Regions from separate parts of the Homo sapiens genome. Here regions 1, 3 and 4 are each reported to be linked to region 2. The links are microRNA targets in miRTarBase. Many come from high-throughput screens and were not tested one by one. Region 2 holds a microRNA gene; each other region holds the end of a gene's coding sequence.

Region 1 (7,123 bases), not on the chromosome of region 2:
AAGTGCCACATGTATTTATAATTGGGGATATATCGTTCTAGTGACTTGTTAAAATGTTGGTCTCTACCCACAAGTTAATTCAGCAGCCCTCTATGGGTCACAGCTGACAGTTCTAAAACACTGGTAATGGAGCTTAGTTCTTTCTAGTACCTGGGCTGTGAATCCCTTCAAAGTGGGGGGATGGGGAGCCTGGAATCTTAATGAAGAGATTAAATAGTTTTGTTGTGTATTTGATGTAGATTGCTATAAAACCCAGAGAACTTTCTCAGTTCATCTTTCTAAAGATTAGTACAACTGTCATATTGCATAAGCACTAACAAATTCTTTTACTCCATGAAGACCACCATCTCTACATAAAAATGTCAACTTTCTTCAAAATTACAACTGTTTGTTGGGGATTGTGTGTTCACAAAGAAATTGAGGAGGCACTTTTATCTGGGCAACACATCTGGAATCACAAAAGGGGCAGCTTCTGCATCTGTAGGTGTATGGCACTGGCCTTGTCCTTTGATTTTGGGATATATTGGTCCACCTTTGGCTTGTGTTAATGTTGTCAATAGTCCTTATATTCCCTCCTAAGTGGATTTACTTAATTCAACAAAATATATTTAGTTTCTGATTGGAACACATGCTTTGTGTTCCTTCCTGAGATTAATGCCCGTCATCTCAAAGGCAGAGGCACTCTGTGCACCTACCTAGAGGATACTAAGTTTTTATTAGGAGATAATAGGACTGTTCTAAATTCAGTCTTCCTTTTTCGAATGGCACAAAATTGCAAAATACATTACTTGTAAAGCTAAACTTCCCTATTTGTCATATTAGAAATGCTTATAATTTCCATTCGACTTGTATATGTAAAATATTATAGGTTATAAGAAAATCTAAGTTTCTCTTGGAGCCCTGAAATAACTTCCTTCAGATGTGATTATCTGTCTGAACTTAGAAGCAGCAATACTGAGTGGTTTATTTATTATTATTATTCTTTTTTGAGACAGAGTCTCGCACTGTCGCCTGGGCTGGAGTGCAGTGGCGCAATCTCTGCCCACTGCAACCTCTGCCTCCCAGGTTCAAGCCATTCTCCTGCCTCAGCCTCCCGAGTAGCTGGGATTACAGGTGCCCACCACCATGCCCGGCTAATTTTTTTGTATTTTTAGTAGAGATGGGGTTTCACTGTGTTGGCCAGGCTCGTCTCGAACTCCCGACTTTGTGATCTGCCCACCCCGGCCTCCCAAAGTGCTGGGATTACAGGTGTGAGCCACCGTGCCCAGTCAAGTGGTTTATTTTAACCTGTAAAACAAAATAATGAAGACTACAAGCTTCTGAATCTTAGTAGTTCCTTTACCAGCCAACACACCCACCCCCCTTGATTGCTTATTAGGAACAAAGATGATACCGAAAAGGGGACCCTGCTTGGCCAGGCCTGTATTTTCCTTCCTCGTGCTTAAAAATCTTCCTGAGATGTAACTCAGTAACATGTGCAAAAAGCAGCGGAGCCTCTTCTTGGATTCTCAGTGCTACTTCAAGGAGATGATGGAGTCCCAAGGGCCAGGGTTATCCGGGAGGTGGATATAGCCCTGAGCCATTAGGGCAGGTAGGCTTCTCTTCACCCTTTCATTTAAACTGCAAGTGAAAAGTCACACGACTGCCATTTCCACAGCAAAAATCATAAAAAGCCAAATCATCACTTCTGTCTTGGTTTCATCCTCAATCTGTTTTACTCTGAAATTACTTTATTGCCTCCCTCCTCACTGATGTAGGACAGTGTTCAACATCTTAAAACTCACACATCCTGATTTAACATTTTCATGTTTAATATTTCAAAATAATGTAACAAACTAAAACCTAATTTTAGACTGTCTTTAAGGCACACCACCTTCATATTCCTTTGTATTTAAATCCCCTGTTCTCTTAACAGGTTCTGGATAAAAGCAGTCTCCAAGTCCCAAATGAGTGGTGCCACCAGTTTTAAAAGTAACTTGCTTGGCTCAGTGCAGAACAGATCATTTGATTTAACACAGAAGGGAAATAAAAAGGCGTATTAAATTTCAGGCAGATTCGCTTCATCAGGTCCAGTGGTCACTACACCCCTGTTGTACTATAGGTCTATGCTTCCCTGGTTTCCTTCCCATTGATGTATCCAGAGGTTGGCAGGGAGCTTGAGGAAGCAAAGGATGGGGGCAGGGAGGAGGGTCACCTGCCCACTGCAACTCTTACCCATGTGAGGAGTAGGTTTCACTAGTCTATTATTAGTTTTGTTGAAGGACTTCTGCAGGGGTTGTGAGGCAAGAGCTTGTGAAAGGGCCATTGTTGTGGGAACAGACACCACGGGTACTTGTGGCAGAACTTAGATTGTCCTGGGAGTAAATTCTGTCATGACCTTTACTCCTCTTGGACACTCTTTTCGAGCATCTTAAATCACAGAGCTCTGAAAAACATCCTTGGGCTTGATCCCCAGCAGTCCTGAATCCTGAAAGTCCACAGCTGGACAGTTTTTTTGGTTTTTTTTTTTTTTTTTTGAGATGGGTTTTCACTGTGTTGCTCAGGCTGGTCTTGAACTCAAGCAATCCTCCAGCCTCAGCCTCCCGAAGTCCTGGGATTACAGGTGTGAGCCACTGTGCCTGGCCTGGACAGCATTTTTTAATAGGCTATTTCCTGGGCCAGGATGAAGACTTGTTCACTGCCTAGATTTTGTGTAATCTGATTATCCCATGTCCTAGCAAATTGCCTTACAGCACCCAAATCAAATACACCCATTTTTTTGGTAAAATGCCACTCTACCATTAATGTTGAATCTAAATGGTTGTATAAAACCTGCCTTATACATCCATGCTCCTAGTGACTCAATTTCCTAGCGTATCTTACTTTTTGACCATGACCAGCAGTAAAAAATTTACATCACGATTTGCTACACTTAATGCATATATCTATGCACAGATCTATACTGCAATGCAAAAATGCACCATCACAAAACTGTAGGTGACGTGCTTAGATGTTCTAATGCATTTCATTAAAAAATTGCAATCACCCACAAAAACTGATTTCAAACCCTGCAGTTTGAAAGACAAATGCTACCCTGTCTTAGAGAATATGGGTACATAGCCAGTGACAGTACAATCTGACATCTTTTCCTCTAAGCCTAGTGCTTGGTATAGTGTTTATATAGCAGCTAACTGGTTTTTTTTTTTTTTTTTTTGCTTTGAGGTTGCTGAAAGGGGAGTCTGCTTTACTGTGGTTACGTTAGGACTTCTCGAAGTTCTGTTTCTTAGGCGGTCATATGCCCTACTTTTAGTAGCAACATGACTAAGGTCTCAAAATCAATGAATACTTTGCAGAGTTGGTGGCATTCATTAAGCATTTACTAAGAAGCACCTACGTGCCAGATTTGAGTTTGATTCTAGACATGTAGAATCTTTTGAGTGCCATCCAACCTCTTGAATACTTTGATGGCTATAAAACAACCCTCAAATGTTGAACCAAACTAGAAGTCTAGTTTCTGACTTCTACACATTGGTAATGTAACTCTGTGGCAACACTGAGCAAGTTTATTCCACATATAGTAAGACTCCCCTTCCCCTTCCCATTCCATGAGTCCTTAATCCCATTTGCTTTTTTTTTTTCTTGGAGACAAGGGTCACTCTGTCAACCAGGCTGGAATGCAGTGGTGCAGTCATGGCTACTGCAGCCTCAGCTTCCCAGGCTCAAGCAATCCCCTCCACCTGTCTCCAGAGTAGCTGGGATTACAGGCATGCACCACTACGCCCAACTAATTATTAAAATCTTTTGTAGGGAGGGGGGTCTCACTGTTACCCAGGCTGGTCTCAAACTCCTGGGCTCAGGTAATCCACATTGGCACCCTAAGTGCTGGGATTACAGGCATGAGCCACTGCACTCAGCCCCATTTGCTCTTCCAAAATTCTGGTTTCTCCAAGACAGGGTCTTGCTCTGTTGCCCAGGCTGGAGTGCAGTGGTGCAATCACGGCTCACTGCAACCTCCCTCTCCTAGGCTCAAACAATCCTCCCAACTCACCCTCCCAATTAGCTGGGACACAGATACATACCACCAGTCTGGCTTTTTATTTTTTTGTAGATCCGGTGTCTCACTATGTTGCCCAGGCTAGTCTCGAACTCCTGGACCTAAGTGATCCTCCCACCTCTGCCTCCCAAAGTGCTGAGGTTACAGGTGTGAGTCACCACACCCGGCCGAAGAGAACATTTTACTCATAGTAGAGGCTAAAGACTATGATAAAATAAGCATTTACAGAGAATGGAGACTCATCCTGTGAGGCCTTAATTTTTCTCTATGTTCAAGGCAGTTAATTGCTCAGAGTATGGGTTTGGAGGATCTGTACCACAAACTTAAAAGTACCAAGCTAACAAATCACTCATTTTGAAAGTCTACTACAAATTCATAGGCCATCTACCCAAATGGATTTTCTCCTATCAACTCTAGCTGCAGAGCAACATGGTGATTCAGAATAGGTGCCTGGATAGGAAGAGGCATACCGTGAATCTAAGGACTGTATTGAATAGTAAGGCTAACAAGAGTCAGGCATCTGCAGGTGCTGATGAACTAGAGACAGGAAGGGACCGAGTTAACATTTCAGGTGGCCAAGGCTCTCCTTGGAAGCTGTAAACCAAGACTGAAGGCTAATTTACTCTCTCTGTCCTGCAAATCTGCTTTGATATGGAGCAATACCCATGGATGCTTAAGTAGCTAGCTACTATATCGGCTTTTTTTTTTTTTGTCCCTCAATTAAATGCCTTAAGACCTGACATTCCAAGAGAAAACAAAAACCATACTTTGGTTTCTAAGGATGTATGACTGGGTCCCGGCCTTCAGAGGATGGCAGACAGATGGGAACACAAGTATAAGTAGACTAGAGTATCCCATAATTGTCAACTCTGGCAAGGTAAAGATGAAGCTGCTTATGTGGACAACTCGTGGGGTACCTAAGTAAATCTGGGAGCCAGGTACGTGCAAAGTGGTCAGTGGTAGAAGCCCTCATGAAGGCAGGAATGCTGCAAACCTCCACTTACTGCCTTCCAGGACCACTTAAGTCATAGTGGTAAGAGCTGCTAGAAGTAGTCGTTACCAACTTGATTACCAGCAATACACAATGATGTCAAGAAGACATTCCACATCCTTCTGTCATCACTAGCTCTCATTTCAACCACTAAAATAGGTAACAGCTATAGACAAAAAAAAAGGGAGACATGAAACATTCATGGCTGTTCAAGTTAGAAAACTATGGCAGCGGCTATATTAACAAAAATACAAACGTGTACACTAATTACAACATTTATCTACAGTCATTTTACCAGTTGTGCAGCCTAAACTGCCATTATCTTGTTTAGTCATTCCTAAGATGCGTTATTTCTGACATCGAAATATCCTGAAATTGGGAAACTATTGACCCAACCCCAACTGTGTTAGAACTGCATGAACACCTAAGATGAAGGACCAGCATCACAGCAGCACATCAGGCCAACAAAGGCAGAAGTCCAGCAGCAGGAGAGGGCAATCGCACGAGGACAGCATCGTGAGGTCAGCTCACCGACACTCTAGGTGTGCAGGCTTATCCTGATGACAAGAGCCATGGACCTCACCATGTGTCTGAAAACCGCAATGTTGCTACTTAAATGCTAAGCCTTTAATGGTGCATTAATAGATGGTTAAGTAGCATATTAGCAGCTTAAATCTACATAAGTCAGCTGTGTACTGACTGTACCTCACAGTAACAAATTCACCAAATCTGTATCTTTTCTTCTTTGTAACAATGTTAAATATTGGTATATCTCAGTTCTCAGGTGTGATTCCAGCAGCTATGGTGAGACCCATTGCTGCTCCTGAATCTCCACTTTCATTTGCCTTCACTGGTGTCACTGTCGCTGTCACTGCTGCTGTCAGTATCACTGTCACTGGTCAATGCAGTTAGATTACTTAGGGCTTCCCTGTTAAGAAAAGAAAATGGAGGATTACACTGCAATTCAACTGGGTGCTGGGGTTCTCGGTGTCTCTGACACTCACCTATAGCCTGTCAGTTTTGAAATCAGAAAAAGGGACCCTGCAGTTGCATTAAACTATATTAGAAACAAAAAGCTTCTAACAGTCAAATCTATAGGCTTTCCTGACTTGCATGACAAATGAAATAGTCATTAAATTACTACATTCTGACTTTTTGAAAGGAAATAGAAGGGATAGAAAGCTATGAACATTTTGAATGGGCAGATGGATGAAAGGTCTCCATTTTACAAACTATGCTTCATGGTGACCACTTACTTTTGTTCCTGGTTGATTGCAAAATCACTCATTACTCTCTGGGTGAGGCCCTCACAAATAGGTAAGCTGAAGGCACTTGCCAGCTCTACTACTTCAATGGCCTGGGAAGGGCTGTTAGACACTTTTGCACTGTCCATAAGCTCATTCAGCAACTCACTTCTGTAAAAGAAAGGCAAAGTGTGAACTTTCTCCAGCCCCTTCAGTAAAACATTTATAGGCAAGATCCAGTGTAAGTTCAGTAACAGAATTCCCAACAGTATTTCTGGAGACAAAGATGAAGTCTAACATTTATTTTTACTTGTTTCCAGTGAGGTTAGAAAGTCTAAAGGGCCAAATGGATTATCAACATTCATTCAGTATGACTTCATGATGATCTATTCAATGTAGCCCCAATGTATGATGATCCGTCAACACAGATAAAAAACTGCTTGCCTCAGGATGCCCTGGATAGTAGGGAGTTGACGGTATGCTTGCCTAACAGAAGAGTGCCCAAATGTGGTGGCTAAGGCTGGTGAAGAAATTCCAAATGTGGCTACTTCCAGGCTGTACCCAAAGAGAGCTGGCTGATTTCAACTTACCTAGGAATCTTATTATGCTTCCTGAAAAGCCCCAACATTTTCCTGCTCAAGAAAGGAAAAAGATTATGAATACTATTAGAAAAACAAGGCAATCAGACACTATAGCTGTCTTCTCTCTGAAATCAGAGACTAAATGCCCTTTTCTTAACTATACTGTAAGCTCCCAAAGACACACATCTGTGGGCTCTACTAGCTCCCAGCCCTGTGTGTACATGAGAATCACCGCAGGTGCTTAAACTCCCCAAACGAATCTACACTGCAGTTT
Region 2 (7,123 bases):
ATACAGATTTATACGCCTCAATTTAAAATGCTCTGGGCACGTAAAGTCTGATATGGTTTGGCTGTGCCCCATCCAAAGCACATATTGAATTGTAGCTCCCACAATTCTGTGTTGTCTGAGCCACCCGGTGGGAGATAATTGAATCATGGGGGTGGTTTCTCCATACTGTTCTCCTGGGAGTGAATAAGTCTCACAAGATCTGATGATTACATAAGGAGAAACTTCTTTCGCTTGGGTCTCATTCTCTCTTGTCTGCTGCCATGTAAGACGTACCTTTCTGCTTCTGCCATGATTGTGAAGCTTCCCCAGCCACGTGGAACTGTGAGTCCCTTAAACCTCTTTTTCCTTTTAAATTACCCAGTCTCAGGTATGTCTTTATCAGCAGTGTGAAAACAAACTAATACAAAGCCTAACTGAATTTTCTTATTTAAAAAGAATTCTTGTATTTCAAAAGAAGTTAGTTTACTACAAAGTAATATAAACATATCTGACAAAATGAATTGTCATTAGGAATATAACTGAAAGAACACCCACTGCTATAAAAATGCGAGTATATATAAACATAAACATGCTTAAATAGTCAATTATTTGGTAAAGATAACTGAAAATGGTCTCTGCAATTAATCTGGACAGTAATACCATAATCTGCATGTTGGTAATAGCAATTTTTAAAATTAACATGTTAGACCTATTAGAAAAAAAAATAGTTCCACAATGGGGCCAATATGTTCATGTAAATAACAGAAACTTTGTCATAATAAACGTTATGTCATAATAAGTAAGTTAAAACTATATATTCTGGTTAAAACAAAAGCCTATATAAATATATTCTAACAAGTAACTGTGTGACATATCAGTTACTTGTAACCTTTAATGGATTCATACGTTCTTTTAGATTAAAACATGTCCCTTTAAAGAGGAATTCACTGACTGGGTCACATAAACTTTTGTTTCTTTTTTACATTATGAAATTATTCAAATTATCCCAGGCTCCAAAACCCTCTCTCTAAAACAAGCCTCGAGGGGAATTGCCTAATTTCAAAGGTGTCAAGCATCCGGCAGGCATCAAGGGATAAAGGCCTGTTCTCCAGGTGCGCAAGCCAGAACTGAGAATAAATTTGGGTCAACATAGATAACATAGTAGGTCCTGAGGAATTACCCCATCAGAGAAGGACAGTGGATGAGACAGCCTCCTGATACAAGCTGATGTCAGGAGTCTCTGATGTAGGTAGAAGAGTCATTGAAAAGATTGCTTGTCATCACGACGATTCATTAATACGTACAGTAAAGGACCCAGCACAATCAGTTAAAGAACCAAAGAGACCAAATACTGCTACCAAATAACCAAAGAAACAAAAGCACAATGAAATCTTTTAATAAACAGAAAAGGACACAATTCTTTCTATCATGAACTGTTAGGTACATGGCCTCTGCCCATGAAACGTGTTCCTCTTCCTGGCTAACCCTGCTTATTTTCCAATAAAAGTATGAATTTTGGACCTTTTCTACAGTGTTACTCAGTCTCACCTCTGTTTTCCCACGGCACCCTGACCAGAGCTTTATCCATTCATTTATGTTCTATTTCATTTGCTTAACAAGATCTTCCCACCAGAGAGAGAGAAGCCTAATGCTGGAGACTTTGTCTTAACCATGTTAGTTCTCTCAGTGCTTAGCATATGGCTGGCTGACTCTCAGCAAGTGAAGGAATGGGTGAATACCTGCATAGTGAATAATTATTCAAGAGCAGAGAAACGAGACCATAGCTCTGGTATTAACAAGTTGTATGACTTTCAGAATCACTTCACCGATCCAGGCCTTCAGATAAAAAAGATGAGTAGCAATTGGGTAGGCAGTCAGGAAAGAGAATGCCCCAGATGGCAGAAAGGGAATTTGAAAACGGAGATTTAAGCAAGCAAAGTACATTAATGAAACAGCAAATTATTTGGTAATCTTAGATGTTCCTCAAACTTTCTGCTTTTGACTTTTCATACAACCCTCAATATTCACACTATATGTCCTAGATGTGTGCAATTCAGTGGTCTAATCTGGACTTCCAGATAAAAGGCCAGCAAGGCTGACTTCCAGCTCTTCCAAGATGGCCCCGCAGGACAGTAGCCAACCATTCACCAGCTTGGCTCCCATTGCAATGTGTGTGTGATGATTGGAAGATGTGATGAATTAATTACATCTTTTTCCTTTTTTTAGATCTTCCGTAAGCTCTGACTGCCATGTGAGAGAGGAACGGGCATCACCTGAAGGAAAGGATGATGTCTCAGGACTTTCTAAGAGCAACAGAATGTTGGAAACTATCCATGGTAGGGATGCAGTTGGCTAGTTACAATGCTTGACATCCCTTCATCTAGTGGCCATGGGACTCCAAGGTATCTTTCCATAAAGAACCAAAGCCAAACTCACAATCTGCCTAAACTGCTATTCTCAGCTTTCAAGAGGAAGATGACTGTTAATACCCAAGAGTAAGAATAAGAAGCAAGGGTTCTATAGCTAACTCATGCCTTCTTTCCACAGCTCACTCTTATTCAGCAATATGGGCTCCCTTAGCTCCAACCCTCAAATCCCCACCTGGGCACCTTTACCTTGTTCTCTCTCCACCCTGGGACACTCTCTCCTGCCTATTAATGAGGCAGGCTCAGTCTTATGCTTTATAGCTCAGTCATCTACTTAAGGAGGCCTAAAAGCTCTGTCCAAAGACAAAACCTCCATCCTAGCAAGATAGTCTGCCTTTGTTTACTTCATAGCATATATCCCAATCCATAATTATTTTTATATTTGTTTCCTATTTACTACCTATATCCACCACTAGCATGGATACTTTTAAGCTACTTGATCATCTACTATATCCCCAGAGCCATGAAAACATCATACATAGTAAGTGCTCAGCAAATTACTTGCTGAATGAATGAAGTATATCCATATAGACTGAAGCAAAATCTAAGACATTCCTCTAAATTTAATATTTGTAAGATTTTTTTTAAATGACAAGATTTTTATGTATGACCTGTGATCATTTTAGTATATTCATAACATGTGGATGTATGCAGAAGATGGACTCATTCCACACAAAAATGCCATTGTACAAATACTATCTGTTGAGGCAGCCCAGCAGGTACTACATGACAAATAGGAGGCAAAAATAATATTGCAAATCACCACAGCTATAGAGAAAACATAGTATCACTTACATCATATTGATGTAAGCTGAAATCTGTCCAGAGCTGAGGCTAATCATTTGTGAAAAGCAGCTGACAATATAGAAAGAACAAGCATCTAAGTTATATATGAACTATTTTCACCATTCTCCTTATAAAGTTTTAAAAATAATATGAAAACCAGCAGGATTGCCTGAAATGTGAAAAGAACACTGACGATTTTTATTGTGATTTTTAGTGGAAACATTTTAGTTATGTAAAAACTGTTAAAGGGATAGTCTTTGTACCCTAAAAAAGAACTCTGCTGAACATTGTCATTCACATATATATATATATATACATCTGAGATATTTTATTAGGATGCATTCCTATATTAGGAATTACAGAACTAAAGAGGATGGACTTTTAACATATATTTTAACATAGCTCTCCAGAAATAAAAAGTTCTTGACCACTGATGGAGTCCGGATATTTGTCCTCATCCAAATCTCATGTTGAAATGTAATCCCCAATGCTGGAGGTGGGGATTACACTTCAACAGGAGATTTGGGAGGTATTTGGATCACGGAGGCAGATCCCTCATGAATAGCTTGGGCCATCCTCTTGGTGATGAGTGAGCTCTTCTTCTGAGTGTATGGCACCTTACCCCCAACTCTCTCTCTTTTGTTCTGGCTCTGGTCACGTGACAAAGACTGTTCCTTCTTCACCTTTCACCATGATTGTAAGCTCCTGAGGACTCCCCAGAAGCCGAGCAGATGCCAGAACCATGGGTCCTATAAAGCCTGAAGAATCATGAGCCAATTAAACCTCTTTGTTTTATAAATTATGCAATCACAGGTATTCCTTTATAGCAATGCAAGAATGGTCTAATATAATCAGTGACACTAATCATCAATATTATCTTATTAATTTTCCCAGTTTATTCAACATCAAAACCAGTACATTTTAGTTAAACTCACATTAAATGTTTGTATTTTTTTCATTTTATGAGTTGTCTGTCTGTATTTTTTTCCACTTTTATCTCAGTATGCTCATCTTCTTTTGTTGTTGTTTGACTGGAATACGTGTTGCAAGTAATTTTTCCAGCTTCTCATTTGCATCTTTTTTATGATGGTGTTAGATATGCCAAAGTTTTGTGTCATGTGAAGTATTATCTACTGATACTCCCCTTAGAATTTTTAAAAATTAATTTTATGCTTATAAACTTCTCTGCCATTTTGCAATCTTCTATTTACGTATTTGTTTTCTAGATGACTAACATGGCTTTTTCACAATCAAGTTCATAACGCAGCTGAATTTGCATACTTACCTAACTTGAAAATTTTCTCTCAAATAGTGAGTTATCCTAGAAGCATTTAATAGAAAATGCTTTGTTTCTTAACTGACTTACAAGCTACCCTTTTGTATACTAAATCCTTTGATGTGCTAGGTTCTCCTCCAAGTTTCTTGCAGACAACCAAGAACAAAATGAAAGAGAAAGAAAGTGAACAAAAGTAGAGTTTAAAAAGCTACAGCCTTTCAAGGTCAACATTTTAAAGTAAAACAGCATCTTTTTCTTTGAAATCTTATGGATTCCCACAGTGTAAAACATGCTTCTATCTAATAATCAGTATTAAAGAATCTATTAAGAAATTTCAATGATTTTTGTTTCCCTTGGCTGAGCTCTCATTATGGACTGTTTTGCTGCTTCCTTTCTCTATGAAGAAAAATCATTCATTGCTAGTGTTTTCTCAGTGTTACAATGCTTTTCCAATAAGCGTTCATTCTAGTGGTGTGTGCTTCCTCATCAACAAACATGAAATTTATCTTCTTAAATATCAAGAGTTCAGGTTATTACAAAACCTAAGGCTTACAGTGTGGTATAGTCCAAAATCATACTCCATAAACTACTGGAAAATTAATCAAATTATATTACATGAAGTTTTTATATACTCATATCTTTTGACTTGAGGTATTTCAAATATTTGAGAATCTCTTATAGACCTCATTTCAACTTTAATTTTTCTGTCTCATGTGTTTGGTCCATTTATGTGATTTGCCTGGGACATTAATGAAATTCTCAAGAATGTTAATTTTCAGAAAATATAAATCCCTGAAAAGTTAGCAATTTAGAGATTATTCAGGAATATAATTTTGTGCTAGTTTCTAACGTAATATTGCAATTATATTAACTGAAGACAAAATATTGCCACCTAGACTTCAAAAAACATCTTAAAGGTAGTTGCAGAACTGTTAAGAAAACAACCTAAAAACAGTAGCCATTAACATATTAAAAATGATATAAAAATTAAGAATACATGCTAAGCTGGAAATTTAAAACATCATTTAGAAACCAGACACTTTGACTGGAGGCAGCTGTTGCCTCTCTTTTTGACTTAAACTTTTATTTAACTCATTCTACTAAAATTAATATCCCCACGAAAAGAGAGTTATAACCATAACTTTTAATGAGGCTCAGTTTTGCCCCTTTCTTTTTTCTCTGTTTTACATATTTTGTTTGTAAAGTGACTGTTAGAAACATTTATAGAAATTTACACATTTGAAATGCAGAGTGCTATAATTACGTGAGTGTAGGTTCTTTGCTATGGTTTGAATGTCAGATCCTCCAAAATTCATGTTAAAACCAAATCACCACAGTGACAGCATTGAAAGACAGGGCCCCTGGAAGGTGATTAGGTCATGAGGCTCCTTCACCATAAATGGATAAGGCCCTTCTGAAAAGGGCTTTCAGGTCTCTGCCATGAGAGGACACAGCCTTCCTCCCCTACAGAGGAGGCAGCCCTCATCCAACAACCGAACATGCCTGCACCTTGATCTTGGACTTCCCTGCCTTTTGAATGGTAAGAAAATAAATTTCTGTTCTTTATAAAGTACACAGTGTATGGTATTTTGCTACAGCAGCACAAACAAATGAAGATATTCTTTAATAACTGTTCAAATTAGAGATTCTGTGAATCACATAATTACCAGGAAAGGACTTGAGGAAGTATTCCAAAGGCCATCTTTCAGAAAACAAAACAAAACACACTCTCCAACAAAGCAACACCCCCAAATCTGTCTTTTGTTGAGGGTCTGTGATGCCTAACATGACACCATCCAGGATCATGTCTTCCGTTAAGGTCTCAGGAAAAGCTCAATACTTCTAAGGGAGTGTCTTTGTCATTGAACATAGGTAAAATCAGTTCTACAAACTGTTTGAAAATATAGAGTTAACATTAATGGGAAATGGGGAGGGGGAGAGACAAAAAGATCTATTATGACTTGGGGAGAACCAGGGGACCAAATATCCTGCAAAGAGGAAAATTACCTGTAAAAGGGAGAGGGAGACTGAAGAGAGCAGAGAGAAATGGAACGTGAGAGGGAAATCCAGGGTAATGATATAAAAATGTGGTCATTGGCCCAGTGGCATCAGCATCACTTGGAAATGTGTGTGAGATACGTAGGTTCTGGGCCCTCCCCAGACCTATGAAATCAGAAACTCTGCCGTGGTGCCCAGAGATGTATTTTCACAAGCCCTTCAGATGACTCTGGAAAGTATGATCTTTTTAGAGCCACAAACATGTTTACTTCAGAATTTTTGCCTCATCTTCCAATTAAAAACAATTTTAAAATTGCTAAAATATGTTTATATTTATTTTGATGCATATTAACATTTTCCTCTAAGAAAAACTATTTGTAATTCAGTTAAAAAAAGAACAAAAGGAGAGAGATGGGGAAAAGAGGAGCAATAAGGACAAAAGTTAATATGAAATACTAATGTTATTTTTTGTTTTCTTCCATCTTTTATTAAGTTCAGGTGTACATATGCAGAATGTGCAGGTTTATTACATAGGTAAATGTGTGACACAGTGGTTTGCTGAACAGATCAACATATTACTTAAGTATTAAGCCTGGAATGTTAATTTTATAATATACAAATAAGCCAGTATTTCCTACATTTTAGCTGAGGAATTTGT
Region 3 (7,123 bases), not on the chromosome of region 2:
TGCAAAATGATTCAGTTCTTGGAAACGTGGATAAATTTCAGCTCAAGGAGTACTTCTTTTTCAACACTAGAGAAAGGAACTGAAACCACTACAAAATAGACTTTTATGTATAGTCATCATAAAGTATATTAAAAGGTAGAACAGAGGATACTAGAGGCTGAGAAGGGTAGGAAAAAGGATGGATAGGGAGAAATTTATTAAAGGATATAAAATTACAGCTAGATAGGAGGAATAAGTTCCAGTGTTCTATACCACTGGATGACTATAGTCAACAATAATATATAGTTTCAAATGGGTAGAAGGAGGATACTAAATGTTCCCAGCATAAAGAAATGACAAATGTTTGAGATGATGGGTATGCCAGTTGCCCTGATTTGATTATTATACATTATGCATATCAAAACATCACTCTGTACCCCATGAATATGTACAATTATTATTTGTCAATTCAAAAAAATAAAATTATTTAAAATTTAAAAACTTTCTTAAAACACTGACATATGGTACAGTAACAAAATAAAGAAAATTTTTCATATAAGATTCAGAAAATTAAATGTTTCATCTTCATTTCCTAACCTACTTGTCCTCCTTTTTTGTCTTCTTCATATTTCTGTAATGGTTCCACCCCCCTCCAATTATAGGAGTCCTGTACTTGGTACCTAATACCTCAACCCCTTCTTTCACTTTCTCCTCTCTTTCTCCACACACCCAGTCATCACCTAAAGACTTGGTTGCTCAAGGACTGTTAGAATGTTTTTCCCTCACTGTCATGAGTCCCTTATCATCCCTCACATATGCCATTACATTGTTGCAGCTTTTCTTTTATCTACCTCTGCCTCTGTTGACTGCTGAGAGTGGTTTTCTCAAAGCATATTCACTACCATGTTCAAAGAATCTCTGATAGCTACATGTTATACATTCTACATTGCATTCAGAGCCCACCATGGTGATATAACCGCACTCCTCATTGTCTTTTCCCATTCTCCCTTTCATGTACTTTTGCTTGAGATGAAGGGCTCTCCCGCTTCAGTGCTTTTGATCAACCTGAATTGTCCCTCACCTTCTCTTTCTGCCACTTCAGCATCATATTTTCAAGAAACTTTCTCTAAACAACCAGTTCTTAACACTTTGACCCATGATACCACATTTTAGAGCACTTACCCTTTCATACATATGTGGTCCTGACCTAATAAAACTAAGATTTTTGCAGCCACAATTTATGTCCCCTCCCAAAGTATCTAGCCCAGTGGCTTCAACACAGTAGAAATGCAAATATTTGCTAACTCCTTGATGTTCTCTTCCCCTTCTTTTTCAGCAGGACCACCACCCTACGGTCACGACCACGAGATGGAATACTGTGCAGACTTGCCTCCTCCATACTCCCCCACCCCACAGGGTCCAGCACAGCGTTCTCCACCCCCTCCTTATCCTGGAAACGCAAGGAAATAATCTATCTCCCAGAACAGAACATGTGCCAATGGGCGATCTTGCCTGGAATAAAATGCCTCTACTCAGAAACAGGCAGGAAAGAATTGCTCCAAGGAATACTTTTTGGGGTCAGATAATGTGTCAGGTGGAATATCCCTGCTAGGAGATATAGGATTTCTACTCTGCTCAAAGCTGACCCCATCTGGAGTATTAATGTTTGGTTCTATGGAACCACATTTTAAGAGATCTGCTGATCCACCTAAGCACATTCAGGGAAGAGTAATGTAATTGACAAAATATCTGATAATCATGTTGTTTAAGGGCTAGGTGAAGAAAGTTTCAGTATTGATCCTGGAAAAAAAGAAGATCTAAGTAGGATGGGAGAATGATTTGGCCCACACAAGGAAGCAACTTTATTCTATATAGCTTTAAAAGTCAGAACTAGAATTGTTCATTCTTTCATTCATCAATAAATGTATTTTGAGTGCCTAAGAGTTTACTATGTGCCTAGCACTGTTTGAGGTCCTGATGGAAGTTACAGGACGGGTACTCTGGTTTTAGTACAAGAAAGAGCAATGACTAGATTGCTTTGTGAAGCTCTTGGTAGAGACACGCTCCAGAAGGGATAACAAAATCAAATAGTAGATGGGTTCATTGGGCCTCAGAAGTTCTGCTCGTATTTTAGGTGGGTGTGAAGTGAATTTCTATATGTCCAGGAGTGAATACAACAGAAAGAGTTGGATCTTATTTATTTAATTAGGGAGTTAAAACAAGACCAAAAAGACTCAACAGCCGCTTGAAGCCAAGAACTCTTCAATGCCAGCTACTGCCACCTAAAAATCATCTGGCTTTATAGTGGATCAGAATAAAGGTTATTCTAACTGTGGGGAGAAAAAAAAAATTGTATCAAGTTCCACAGGTAGCAGACACTTCACTTCCAAGTAAAAGATGAGAAATCAATTATTCCCACAGGATTTTAGGTCAGGGAGCAAAAATCTCAGAACTTGACCATGAAGATACACAACAGACTCGCAAAAATAAAGTGGGAAATGAAGTTCAGATTCCCTTCTGTAGATTTCCTTAAAACTATTATTTTTTTCTTCTTCGTAAAATTTTGATAATCTGTTCTCTTAAAAAAGTTAATGACACAATTAAGATACTGACATCAAATTGTTGCCTTTTACCAAAATGCAAATTTTATGAAGTGCCTACCTTTATATGTATAAAGCATTTAATAAATAATTCTAATGTGCCATATTTTGCTGTGAGTGACCTTAACATTTATATTTTTATATGAATTGTTTCATGTATTTATAAAAATTGTATATTGAACATTGGAAATAGATGATTAGATTTTTGTGTCATTTTACAATTAAATCTAAAATGCTTAATCCAATATCATCATCAAAATTCAGTGAAATCCCAAAACAGTGCCAAGAATTTTGCTGAATGAAACAATCAAACAAAGCATTTTAAGGTGTAAGTTATAGTACCTGTACTTGCAGATAAGAAGCTTACTATATCATTATTATAAGTAGCATATATTACTTTCAAATACCTATATTAGAAAGATATTGATCTGACTGAAATATAACCTACCTGCCAGTAAGGTCCAAAGGCTGAATTTGTTTTGAATGAGTTCCTTGATCTTTAAGCACTGATGATTTTCTTATATATGAGGATGCAAAGCATTCAAGAGTTTCAGCCTGTTCTGGTGAGGGGCTCCCTGACTTACATAAAGTTTTCAGTGCAATTTTAATAGTACATATGCTTTAATTTATTTTTCTTCTGCGTGTGGTCAGACCCAATTACACTGTGGCTAAGACTCTCAAAGTGCCAGGGTTTCTGTGATGATTCTGAGAATGCTGAATACAAATATACCTTATATTCTTTAAGGAAAACGGAAAGGAAAGATCAGCAGAAATAGGGTTTTCTCATCTTCACCATCAATAAACATTTATTGCGTACCTCCTATATTCTGCAAATTTTCCCCAAATAGAAGCCAGTTCAGTCCACACCATCTCTTCTTTGAGTTGTTTATGGCCTCCCTTAAGGCATTTTACAAACCCATAAGCCTACAATAGATGAGTATTTTTACTATTTGTATTAAGTGTCATAATAGCATCAATGTGCACATTACCAGTATAGACTGTTGGAGTTCACTGATTGTTTTCATAGATGATGCTTCTTGGGGAAAAATAGTATAGGATGTGAAAGTTTTGAATTACGGTTATTTAAAAACTAACATTTGCTATGGCCAAAGTGTTTACAATAAGCAATAAAGTGAAAGAACCTATTATAACACAGATTATATTTTCATTGTCTTGTGTCCATTTTTTTCACCCTCTATTTCTGCTGACTTTGCCTCATTCTTCTGTACAGGAAACACAGGGCTGGAGCCAGACAGACTTTATTTTGAATCCTGTCTCCTGCCTGTGTGATTTGAAGCAGGCTACTTCATCTCTGAGATTCAACTTTCTGCTCTGGAAAATGTAAATAATATTATCAGTCTCATCGCATTCTGCAAAAACTGGATGAATATATACAAAACTCTAAGTATAGTGCCTGGCACATAGAAAACGTCCAATAAATATTAGCCCAAAATAAATTAACAAAACAACAATATAATGAGAACAACCTCTAGAACTATATTATCCAACACAGCAATCATCAGCTACATATGGTCATTTAAGTTTAAATTAATTGAAATGAAATTAGATGAAAAATTTACTTCATCTGTCTCATTAACCCCATTGCAAATGCTGCATAGCCTCATGTGGCTAGGGGCTACCTACGTTATTGGGTAGTGCCACTCTAGAGAAATCTATGCAAAAACGCAGTGAGATAGCAGGAAGTCATTGAAAAAGAGACCACTCCAATCTCCTCCAGGAGAAACTATGGACTTTGTCAGCTAATTGTGATGTCTTTCACTTATTTGTGTGGAGAGTCCATTCCCATGGAAGCAAGACAATAACTTGCATGAGAACCATGAGCAGCGAGAGGCTAATCTGGCCCTCTCCAGAGCCATGGGCAGGAAAGCTGTTGCAAGAGCTGAAGGGCTGATGATAGGAGAGAGACCTTAGACCTGATGTTAGAGCTGGTGAAACAGAGCCACAGCCTGTTCTCAGAGTCTAATCAATTCTGCAGCTGCCTACCCAGCTTCAGAAGCCACTACAGGAGCATGTGGGGCTACCTAATCTTCCTAAGGTGCAGGGCTGTAGGCTACCCTTCTGTTTTTTCATAATCTTGTTCCCACCACCAAATGACGGCAGCACTCATCATACATCCACTCTACTTCCAACTTGTCCTTGTTTAACCAAACTCATTTTGCCAACTTTTGGTTGTAGGTAAAGTAGGGACTGGGACACATAAGATTGTATATTAAGCTCATCAAATAGTGGAGCTCTGGGTACTATTGTTTTAATTTTTCACTTAATTAAAACAACCTAACACCAGAATGCCAAAGTCACATGGTCACCTTGTTAATCACCACAGAGGCATCCAAGAACTACCATATTCTCAATCAAAACCTATCTGAAATGCATAGTTTTTATTCTCTGATTTGGGGCCAAGCTGCATGGGATATGGCTGAACTTGTGCAAGAGCAAAACTCTTTGGTGCAACTGTACTGTGTAGTGTGGTTCAGTATAAACATTGTCAGGACCTCCAGAAAAGGAAAGTGACATGATTAACTATAAAGCAACCCACAGGTGATTCTGATTTCCAGCCTACTTAACCCCACTCAGGCCTCTAACATCCCTCTAATGCAGGGGACAGAACCAAGGCTTCAGAGTAAGGGAGACTTTGTTTCCCCTCTCATCTCTGTCATCTTCTAACTACATGTACGGAGCCAAATAACAACATTTCCATAACCTCAGTTTCATTCAAAATATATGAATAACACCATCCTTGCCACGTGGTTGCAATGATTATAAACAATATATGTAGAACATCTGTTACAAAGATCCTACCTGGGTTGGTGACTCTGATAGTTGCAACTGAATATACATATTCTCTTTCCTTTATGCCCCACTCCGAAGCCTCACCACTTCTATAAACAGGTGCATTTGTTATCCATTGCTGTGTAACAAATTTAACTCAAAACTTAGTGGCTTGAAACATGTATTATCTCAGTTTCTATGGATCAGGAATCTGAGGGTGGCTTAGCTGGGTCTTCTGGCTCAGGGACTGTCACAGGCTGCTGTCATCTCAATGTACAACTGAGAAAGTATCTGATTCCAAGCTCACTCCCATGCATGGTCATTGACGAGATTCAGTCCCTCCGAGGCTTTTGTGCCAGCTTCATTTTCTCACTAGCTATTGGCCAGAAACCACCCTCAATTCCTTGGCATATGGGCCTCTCTGTAGGACAACTTTAAATGTGTCAGCTTGCTCCCCCAGAGCAAGCAAGAAGAGCCATGGAGTGGAAGAGAGTGCTAGGAAGACAGAAGTCACAGACTTACGAAATCCAATATTGGAAGTGATATCCCATCACATTTGCCATAACCTGTTCTTTAGAATCAGGACACTAAGTTCATCTCACATAAAAGAGGAGGGAATTACACAAGGACACAGAAACCAAGAGGCAGAGAGCTTTGGGGGCCATCTTAGTAGTTGGTGTACCATAGCAAAGATATTTTATCTTACTCTCCTTAAGTTGATTATTTAGAGTTTAGGCAATGTAGAAGATAATACCTTCCCTCTAATAAGAATGTACCAACTCAACAGCTGAAAGAATCCCAAGCCATGCTTGGCTGTGATCAAATTGCTTTTATTGAACCAACAGGAGCAGAATGGAGCTGGCAACATTCAAGGACCACATTAACTAGATAAGTGCTACATTCCTAAGAAATACTGAAAAGATACACACAAGGCTTGTGTTTCTCATGAACTTCATTTATGAGCTGCACTAAAGCCCATCGTATTAGGCAGGGAATGAAGTACAGCACATACACCACATACCTTTATGGACGAGTCTTAAAATAGTCCCAGTTCTAACCTTTGTTTCAACTCTGTTCCTAGATATTTAATCTTCATCAAGAAAATAATTCCAAGACAAGTTCCCAGATGAGTGTTCAGTGGATCAAGTTGCTACCTAAGCTAATCCTGAATGCCTTCCCTAAAAATAAACATCCAATCCAAGGAAATGGTTGGAACTGGGGGAACATGTGTTAGGAATATTTGCCTTCTCTGGAAGCATGAAGGAGAAATTGTTTTTTAAAAAAATTTAGACTTTGATTTCTATTTCTGCTCTGCTCTCACTTTTTTTTTTTTTTTTTATGGAGTTTTGCTCTTGTTGGCCAGGCTGGAGTGCAATGCCACAATCTCAGCTCACTGCAACCTCCACCTCTGGGGTTCAAGCAATTCTCCTGCCCCAGGCTCCCGAGTAGCTGAGATTACAGGCGCGAGCCACCACACCCGGCTAATTTTTGTATTTTTAGTAGAGATGGGGTTTCACCATCTTGGCCAGACTGGTCTCAAACTCCTGACCCTCAGGTGATGTAACTGCTTCGGCCTCCCAGAGGCTGGGATTACAGACGTGAGTCACCGTGCCCAGTCTCTGTTCTCCTTTTTCTAACCCAGTCATGAATAGCTTTTGAGTGTGTATCACCTGTCATTTCTTTTTTAATTGTTGTTTGTTCTTTCTTCAGAGACAGGGTTTCATTCTGCCACCTAGGCTAGAGTGCAGGGAAAT
Region 4 (7,123 bases), not on the chromosome of region 2:
TAAGCTTTTTAAAGATTCAAATCACTTAAGGAGCATACACAAGATTAGTCCTAAACTTAACATGAAAGTATCAATATTATGGATTTGAATTATTGCATTATTTCCATAATGAATTCTACACATTCCCAGAGTTGGAAAATCATTTACCCAATAAGGGAACAGAGGTGCTATTTACTATTGTCAAGGACTCATGCCCACAATATGGTGGACAACTCAGATGAGCAGAGGTTGCTTAGGATCTCTGGTCATAAGACAGTACTCCAGCGCTGGGAGACAGTGCCCTGAGTGCTGTGGTTACTATGGGAACAGGAGGCTCCCAGTTTTCACCCTTCAGAGGGTTTTGATTTTAGAACCTTTATTCCAGTTACCTCCCAAGTATTATTTTTATTTTTAATTATTAGAGTAGAAGGAAGTTGGCGACTCCACCTAGGTTAGCTAACAACTTCCTTTATGATCTCATTGGCTTTTGCGTTTACTTGGCACTCTGCAGGCATTGCTAACATATTTCCATCCTGCTCTAAAGACATTTAAATGCTGTTGAATTCAATCCTGAACATTTGGCTCTGAGCCATGACTCTCAGGTCATGATAATAACATAAACCAATCCCCTGCCTCATGACTTTTTAGGAATTTCCCAAATGGGATTATAGCCTCTCACATTTCATTAGAACTACTGTATTTAGCTTGGCAGGATCTTAGCTTTGGGGGCTGTTCTCCCTTGAGCCTGCCCCTGGATGTGCTGGACGTCATTTGCTGAGGCCACCCAGATAGGGAGCAGACCTGGCATCAGCCTTAGATGCGTCAGCCCATTCCCTCCACTACCCTGCTGGGAGTTCCTTACCATTCCCACCTCCAGTTCTCTGCTATTCACCCTCTCTAAAAGGTAGATAAACGCAACGTTTTTTGAGTGTCCAGCCTATTTTGTGGGCTGAGTGGGGCAGGAGAAGGGAGGCACAGTAGCAGCAGAGCTGAAGCCACATTTCTTCTGGACCTCTCATTACTTGTATATATGTGTGAATTGAAAACACGATGTTACCTTTGTTTCCATTTCACACAAATTATAAGAGGGCACTCTGCTGATACCTAGCAAAATAAAATTATATTTCTCATGCCTCTCTGGCATAATATCCACTGATAACTATGTGTTTTTCTTCCACTTACTGATATTCCTAAAAGATGCTTACAAAATGTCTTTTAAAATATCACATCAGTTTGAATACTCTTTGGGAACTCCAATATTTAGAAAAACTAGCCTGGGTGTGGTGGCGTGCACCTGTATCCCAGCTACCTGGGAAGCTAAGGTGGGAGGATCACTTGAGTCCAGAAGTTGGAGGCTGCAGTGAGCTATAATCACACCACTGCATTCTAGCCTGGGTGACAGAGCAAGAATAAAGTAAATAGAGAAAACTATTGGTGGATCATCTTTGTAAGTTTGTAAATTTGGCTTAAAATGGGGTGCACTTTGCTGGGGTTTGAGCAAATGTGCAATAACTATTTACCCCCAATATCATGCAGCAGAGAAGTCACTCTTCCTTTCATAGGGAGGAGCAAATAAGAAGAAATACTGAACTGTCCTCCAGTACTCCTTGATGGAAGTTTCCATTTTGTGGACAGAGGCAGAGATGTCTAGGAAGAAGTCAATCTTAGTTCCACTTTATGTATGTTTATATCAATTTTCTTTGGCCCAAAGTGATACTCTATTTAAAGCTGTATTAGACAAATATCAACCGATCTTAGCGTTTCAGAAGAAAATCTTTATGCCTTTCACTGTCCTATTCTGATTTCACCAATTTCTTCAACTTTCCTTCTCCCCTCCTTTTCTTTTCTGTTATATCCAGTTTTGTTTTCCAAATCCAGAGTTATATGTTTTGGGGAAGAGACATCCAGCACCTACACACATCTGGGCCTCCTTCCTTGCAGGTGCAGGGGGATGATAACATTGACGACACTGCTCCACCTCCTGTGAGGTCACATGACTAGTTCTAGCCAAAGGGTTGTGAGACTGAGGAGGTCACTCCTAGGCCAAGGTACGATGGAATTGTTGGGGTGACCTCTTCCAGTGTTTTCTCCCCCTGCTGCCTCTAGGAAGGAGGCAGCCATGCCCTAGAAGTTGCATCCCACAGTATTACTGGGTTACCCCATGCAAGTAATTGTCTCGGAGGGTTTCCAGGCCTGCAGAGGACTTTGCCTGCCCAATAAATGAACTTTTATCACGTCAAGTCACAAGCATTGCATTTGTTGATTGCCAATGCCCCATGGTTCTCAAAATGTGGTACCCAATCACCAGCATCAGCAACACCTGGGAATACATTAGAACTGGAGCATTTGGGCACCACCCAGCAATACTGAATCACACAATCACACACCCTGAGGGTGCGGCCCAGCAATCTGTGCTTTAACAGACCACCAGATGAGGGATGCCAGCAAGTATGAGGACCATGGCTCTACCCCGTGCTGGCTGACACAACTTTGAGTTAAAAATTCCCTCTTGGCAAAGTAGAGTCTTCAGGTGAGTCCTATTAGTAAGACACAAACCATTTTCAACTTTCTTAATTAAGTATACTTCCTCGCAGTGATGCAATCATTCCATTATTTTTTTGGTTTTAAGGCCTCAGAACAGCAAGAGGATCTATAAGCCTCCCCGACCACTATTTCTAACTTTGAACACAGTTGTCACATGACTGCATTTAATGAACACATAAAAGAAGGTTAATAAGAGCTTGGGGCTGCAGTGAGAAGGAAGAAAATTATCCTTACTTTTCTAGACACCACTGATGGCTGGGGGGCTGTGCTGATTTGCCCTGATCGTGATGCTGCAGCAGAAATTAGTGTGGGGTGTGCTTGGGGCAGAAGAAGTGTCTGGTGTTTCTGGTCCCTAGAAGACCCTCCATTCCAAGGGGCGGCAGGCTGAAATGGATTTTACGTTCCTTCCAAGGGCTTCCTTCCTCTTCTTCATTACTCAGTCGGTTCCCTGCAAGCAATGTGAGCCTCTGGCCTTATTTCTCCTCCGATTCTCATTTCCATTCCTCAAACTCTCCAAGTGGGGGACATTCCAAAACAACCCAATGAAATAAGCATGATATCTGCACCTTCAGTAAATCGCTTAACCTAATGATGGACTTAGAGGGCATTTTTAGGCAAATTACTTATATGACTGAAAGAAATGCTTATTTAAATGTATTTCCATTCAGATTTGACTGTGTTCAAATATAAATTTAAAATAAGAGTATAATGAGAACTGTATATGCTCCACCTAACATTTTACCATGTTAGTTCTCGCTCACACTCTCCAAACACACACCTATACACACACCTTTTTTCCTGGAGTAAGTTGTCAATATGATGCTTCATCTCTCAGTACTTCAGCAGGCATCACTCACATCACTAACAATATCACCTACCACCAGATCCACATTCAACATTCCCAGTTGTCTTTTATACCTATGAGATTTTTCCTAAACCAAAATCCAATCAAGGCTTACGCTTTGCCTTTGGTTGTTGGGTCTCTGGTTATCTGCAACAGAGCTCAGACTTTAACAGGCATGCAGATCACCTGGGCATCTTGTTAAAATGCAGATTTTGATTCTGGATGTCTAGGTGAGGCCTGAGAGTCTTTGATTCTAACAAGCGCCCAGGTGGTCCCAATGATGATACAGGCCCAGGACCACTCTTTGAGTAGCAAGGACAAGACAGTCCCCCTCTTATTCTTCCCACAGTGACACTCACTCCTTAAATAGTCCAGGCCTATTTTTTTGTAGAATGATACACATTTTGGTTATTCCACCATGCCATTAACTTCTTTATCCTCTGTATTTACTGTAAACTGAAAATTAGGTGTAAGACTCGATTAGTTTCCATTGACATCTTTGGAAGGAATACTTCATAATTCATCCCAGCAGGAACACTTAATGTCAGTTATCCTACCATTAATGGTGTGCTAGGACTTTGTCACTTGGTTAAGGTGATGGCCAGATGTTTGCATTATAATTTTTAAAATAAAAATTTGAAGAGTGCCTGCAAAGAGTGAGAACCATGGGGCAATGGCAATCGATAACTCCAATGCTTCAGAAGTAAATAACCTGGCTGCAGATCAGATTGATAACACGAACTACACAGAGAAAAAAATCTTTCAAGTTGGTCTCTGATGGGGTAAGGCTGACTCCCTGCAGGCCAACTCCATCTGGCCCTGCAGCTGCCCCTGAGCCACAGGAGGGCTTCTCTGAAGAGGAGGGAGTCCCTCACCCACCCACGTTACATTTGTTCACCTGAATCCCAAGCAGGGCTGCCTTGCAGTGACAATGGTTTCTACCACAGTAAGGGCCCCCACCATTTATGAATGTTAACCATGTACCGAGCAGCATGCCAAACCCTATGAAGTAGGTGCCATGGACGGAATGTTTGTGTCCCCCGCAATTCATATGTTGAAACCCTAACCCCCAATGTGATGGTATTAGGAGGGGGTCCTTTGGGAGGTGATGAGGTCATAAGGACGGGGCCTCATGATGGGATTAGTACCCTTATAAAAGGCATGCCAGAGGCTCTAACCCTCTTTCTACCACGAGGACACAATAAGAAGTCAGCAGTCTGCAACCCAGATCAGGGTCCTCACCAGCACCTGACCATGAGGGCACCCCGACCTTGGACTTCCAGCCTCCAGAACTGTGAGAAACAAATTTCTGTTGTTTATCAGCCACATACTCTATGGAAATTTTTTATAGAGAGAGTTTTCTCAAGGAAAATGAGGACAAGAAGAAGAAACGCACAGGGAAAGGGGAAAAAGAGGTGAGTAGAGTTGCTTGATGAGAAATCATCCAAGCTGTAAGAGTTTGCCTCTGTAAATATGACACCCCTGGGAGGACGACAGAAGGTGATGGGTGAAGACTACATCTAGCATTCCCAACCTGGCAACTGTGACCCTATCAGTCCCAAACAGCTGTGCTGTCATCTGGAGAATAGGGGTCAGTGTGTTTCAGGGGTTGGGGTAGAAGAGAAGGGAGACACTGTGGGTGCTATGTATGGTAAGCAGCTCTCTTTAAGAAGAAGAAAGCAAGTGCTGATTTGTAGTGGTTGTGATGTAAACTCTCCCACCATGGGCAATTTCAAGCTATGAATGTTTAATAACTGTCTTGCAAGATTCTTGAGTATTGAGCAGCTTCTATGAACTGCTTACAAGTCAGATCTACCAAACCACTAGGCAGTGCAACTGACCGTTTACATGCCAGCCAGGCCCGTGCGACCCAAGGGTACCCTGTCCTGTTCTGTGAAGGTGACATTTTAGTAACTTTGTTTTTGTTTTTTTTGAGACAGGTTCTCGCTCTGTTGCCCAGGCTGGAGTGCAGTGGTGGCATCTCAGCATCTTGACTCACTGCAATCTCTACCTCCCGGATTCAAGCAGTTCTCTTGCCTCAGCCTCCTGAGTAGCTGGAATTACAAGTGCATGCCCAGCTAATTTTTTGTATTTTTAGTAGAGATGGGGTTTCACCATGTTGGCCAGGCTGGTCTCGAACTCTTGAGCTCAGGCAATCTGCCCACCTCGGCCTCCCAAAGTGCTGGGATTACAGGCATGAGCCACTGCGCCTGGCCATGTTTTAGTAACTTTGATGGTTACTTATTCAAAACTAGCAGAGTGTCCCTGAAGTTTGGTAAAAAAAAAAAAGTAGTTCTCAAAAATTAGTGTCTAAAAGCCACCAGAAATCAGAGAACAGGAGACCATTTGATTAATCTAAATTTAAATTCGAGTCATCATGTAGCTGAATTCTTGGGACTATGGTAAATTTCTGATTGTCTCCTCTATGTGAGTTTTTTAAAAATAAAAGAAAAAAGCCAATAGTGATTGTCTAGAATAACTTTTAAAATGTAAAAACCCGGGCATGTTCTTTGTAAAGTGTTCATGCATTTCCAAAGTGGATAAGAAACAGGATTTATGGGACTGGAAGTGCCACAGAGTGTGGAGAGGCTTCTTGACATAGTGTGGCCACCTGAGAAGAGCAATGAGGGGACCTGACACCTGGAGAAAGAGCAGCCAAGAGACCCAAGAGGAGCAGGCGAGAGGCTCAGGGAAAAGCAGGGGCGCCATCTCCCTGCCACTCCCTTGGGGGGCCCTGCCTACACTGTCACCATGATCTGGTCCAGAGGTTTGCGCTTGAGGTCAGGCACCGTGGCCTCCTTGCTGGGGTACCCCACGGGGAGCAGCATCAGCAGCTTTTCATGTGCGGGGCGGCCCAGGAGCACCCTCAGTCGAGGGCCACAGTTGAGAGGAGTGGTAGTGACAGTCACCAGACCTGCATTCTAAAATAAGAGGACAAGAAAGCATTTTAAAGTCAGCAGGCAGAATGACTGCTCTCCCTCTAACCTGGGGACCTTCTTGTCCTGATTATACCTGCTCTTCCTATCATTTCCCTGAAGTTGGGCAGCAAAGAGGCTGCCAGCTCAAGTAATGGCATCGTGAACCTCCCTGCCCCCATCAATCTCCCCACCCCCTCCCTTCTTTTAACCAAGCAGTGGCAAGCTTTTGGAAGAAGAAAAATACTATTATTTTTCATTGATGCTTAAGAAATAGGAATGGTTATTTTACAGAAAAATACTGTAGGAATCCAACTACAGTAGAGGAAAGGCAAAAACAACAGGGAGTTCCTTTTAGCTAAGGGGTTGGTCTGTGTCCTGGTACAAGAACCAAATGATAAGAGAGTCCACCAAAGCAGTGTCCTAGCCCAAATGCGACATAATTTTCCTACTAAATATACATATTCGGTTTTGTTTTTTGTTTTTTTTTTGAGACAAAGTATGGCTCTATCACCCAGGCTGGAGTGCAGTGGCATGATCTCGGCTCACTGTAACCTCTGCCTCCTGGGCTCAAGCCATCCTCCCACCTCAGTCTGCTAAGTAGCTGAGACTATAGGCATGCACCACCATGCCTGGCTATATTTTGTATTTATTTATAGAGATGGGGTTTTGCCATATTGCCCAGGTTTGTCTCAAACTCCTGAGCTTAAGTGATCTGCCCGTCTCAGCCTCCCAAAGTGCTGGGATTACAAGTGTGAGCCACCATACCTGGCCAATTTTCCTGCTAAATATTCTTTCCTGAACTCCAGTGATCTGCCTGGAATCTATGATTTGTTATCAA

The links. The annotated mature microRNA hsa-miR-1267 reads CCUGUUGAAGUGUAAUCCCCA and lies in region 2 at 3,689-3,709, opposite strand. An mRNA with a match to its seed (bases 2 to 7 or 8) in the 3' UTR can be bound and repressed. Matches are read on the target gene's strand: a 7mer-m8 pairs with bases 2 to 8, a 7mer-A1 pairs with bases 2 to 7 and ends in A, and an 8mer does both.
Region 1: miRTarBase lists PTCD3 as a target of hsa-miR-1267. Seed matches in the 3' UTR shown: 7mer-A1 at 3,942-3,948.
Region 3: miRTarBase lists CYYR1 as a target of hsa-miR-1267. Seed matches in the 3' UTR shown: 7mer-A1 at 2,154-2,160, 7mer-m8 at 2,214-2,220 and 7mer-A1 at 2,450-2,456.
Region 4: miRTarBase lists IYD as a target of hsa-miR-1267. Seed matches in the 3' UTR shown: 7mer-A1 at 5,316-5,322, 7mer-A1 at 4,676-4,682 and 7mer-m8 at 535-541.

Annotation. Positions count from the first base shown.
Region 1 is chr2:86,136,298-86,143,420 of GRCh38, reverse strand. PTCD3 (pentatricopeptide repeat domain 3) reads right to left here. Exons shown (of 24, transcript NM_017952.6): 22 at 6,859-6,900; 23 at 6,281-6,439; 24 at 1,264-5,952. The coding sequence ends at 5,862. Among named protein-coding and RNA genes, the nearest start is that of SNORD94, 4.0 kb to the right of the region's middle. RefSeq lists a silencer at 1,961-2,255.
Region 2 is chr13:107,527,529-107,534,651 of GRCh38, forward strand. It overlaps MIR1267 (microRNA 1267), which reads right to left and starts at 3,720; the gene lies at 3,643-3,720. All of the region lies in intron 1 of NALF1 (NALCN channel auxiliary factor 1), which reads right to left. It overlaps LOC112268110 (a long non-coding RNA gene), which reads right to left. Exons shown (of 3, transcript XR_002957493.2): 1 at 1-7,123.
Region 3 is chr21:26,462,827-26,469,949 of GRCh38, reverse strand. It overlaps CYYR1 (cysteine and tyrosine rich 1), which reads left to right. Exons shown (of 4, transcript NM_001320768.2): 4 at 1,316-3,734. The coding sequence ends at 1,449. All of the region lies in intron 1 of CYYR1-AS1 (CYYR1 antisense RNA 1), which reads right to left. All of the region lies in intron 1 of LOC107985474 (a long non-coding RNA gene), which reads right to left. Among named protein-coding and RNA genes, the nearest start is that of CYYR1-AS1, 60 kb to the right of the region's middle.
Region 4 is chr6:150,397,220-150,404,342 of GRCh38, reverse strand. IYD (iodotyrosine deiodinase) reads right to left here. Exons shown (of 5, transcript NM_203395.3): 5 at 1-6,288. The coding sequence ends at 6,106. Among named protein-coding and RNA genes, the nearest start is that of IYD, 32 kb to the right of the region's middle. RefSeq lists a silencer at 436-730.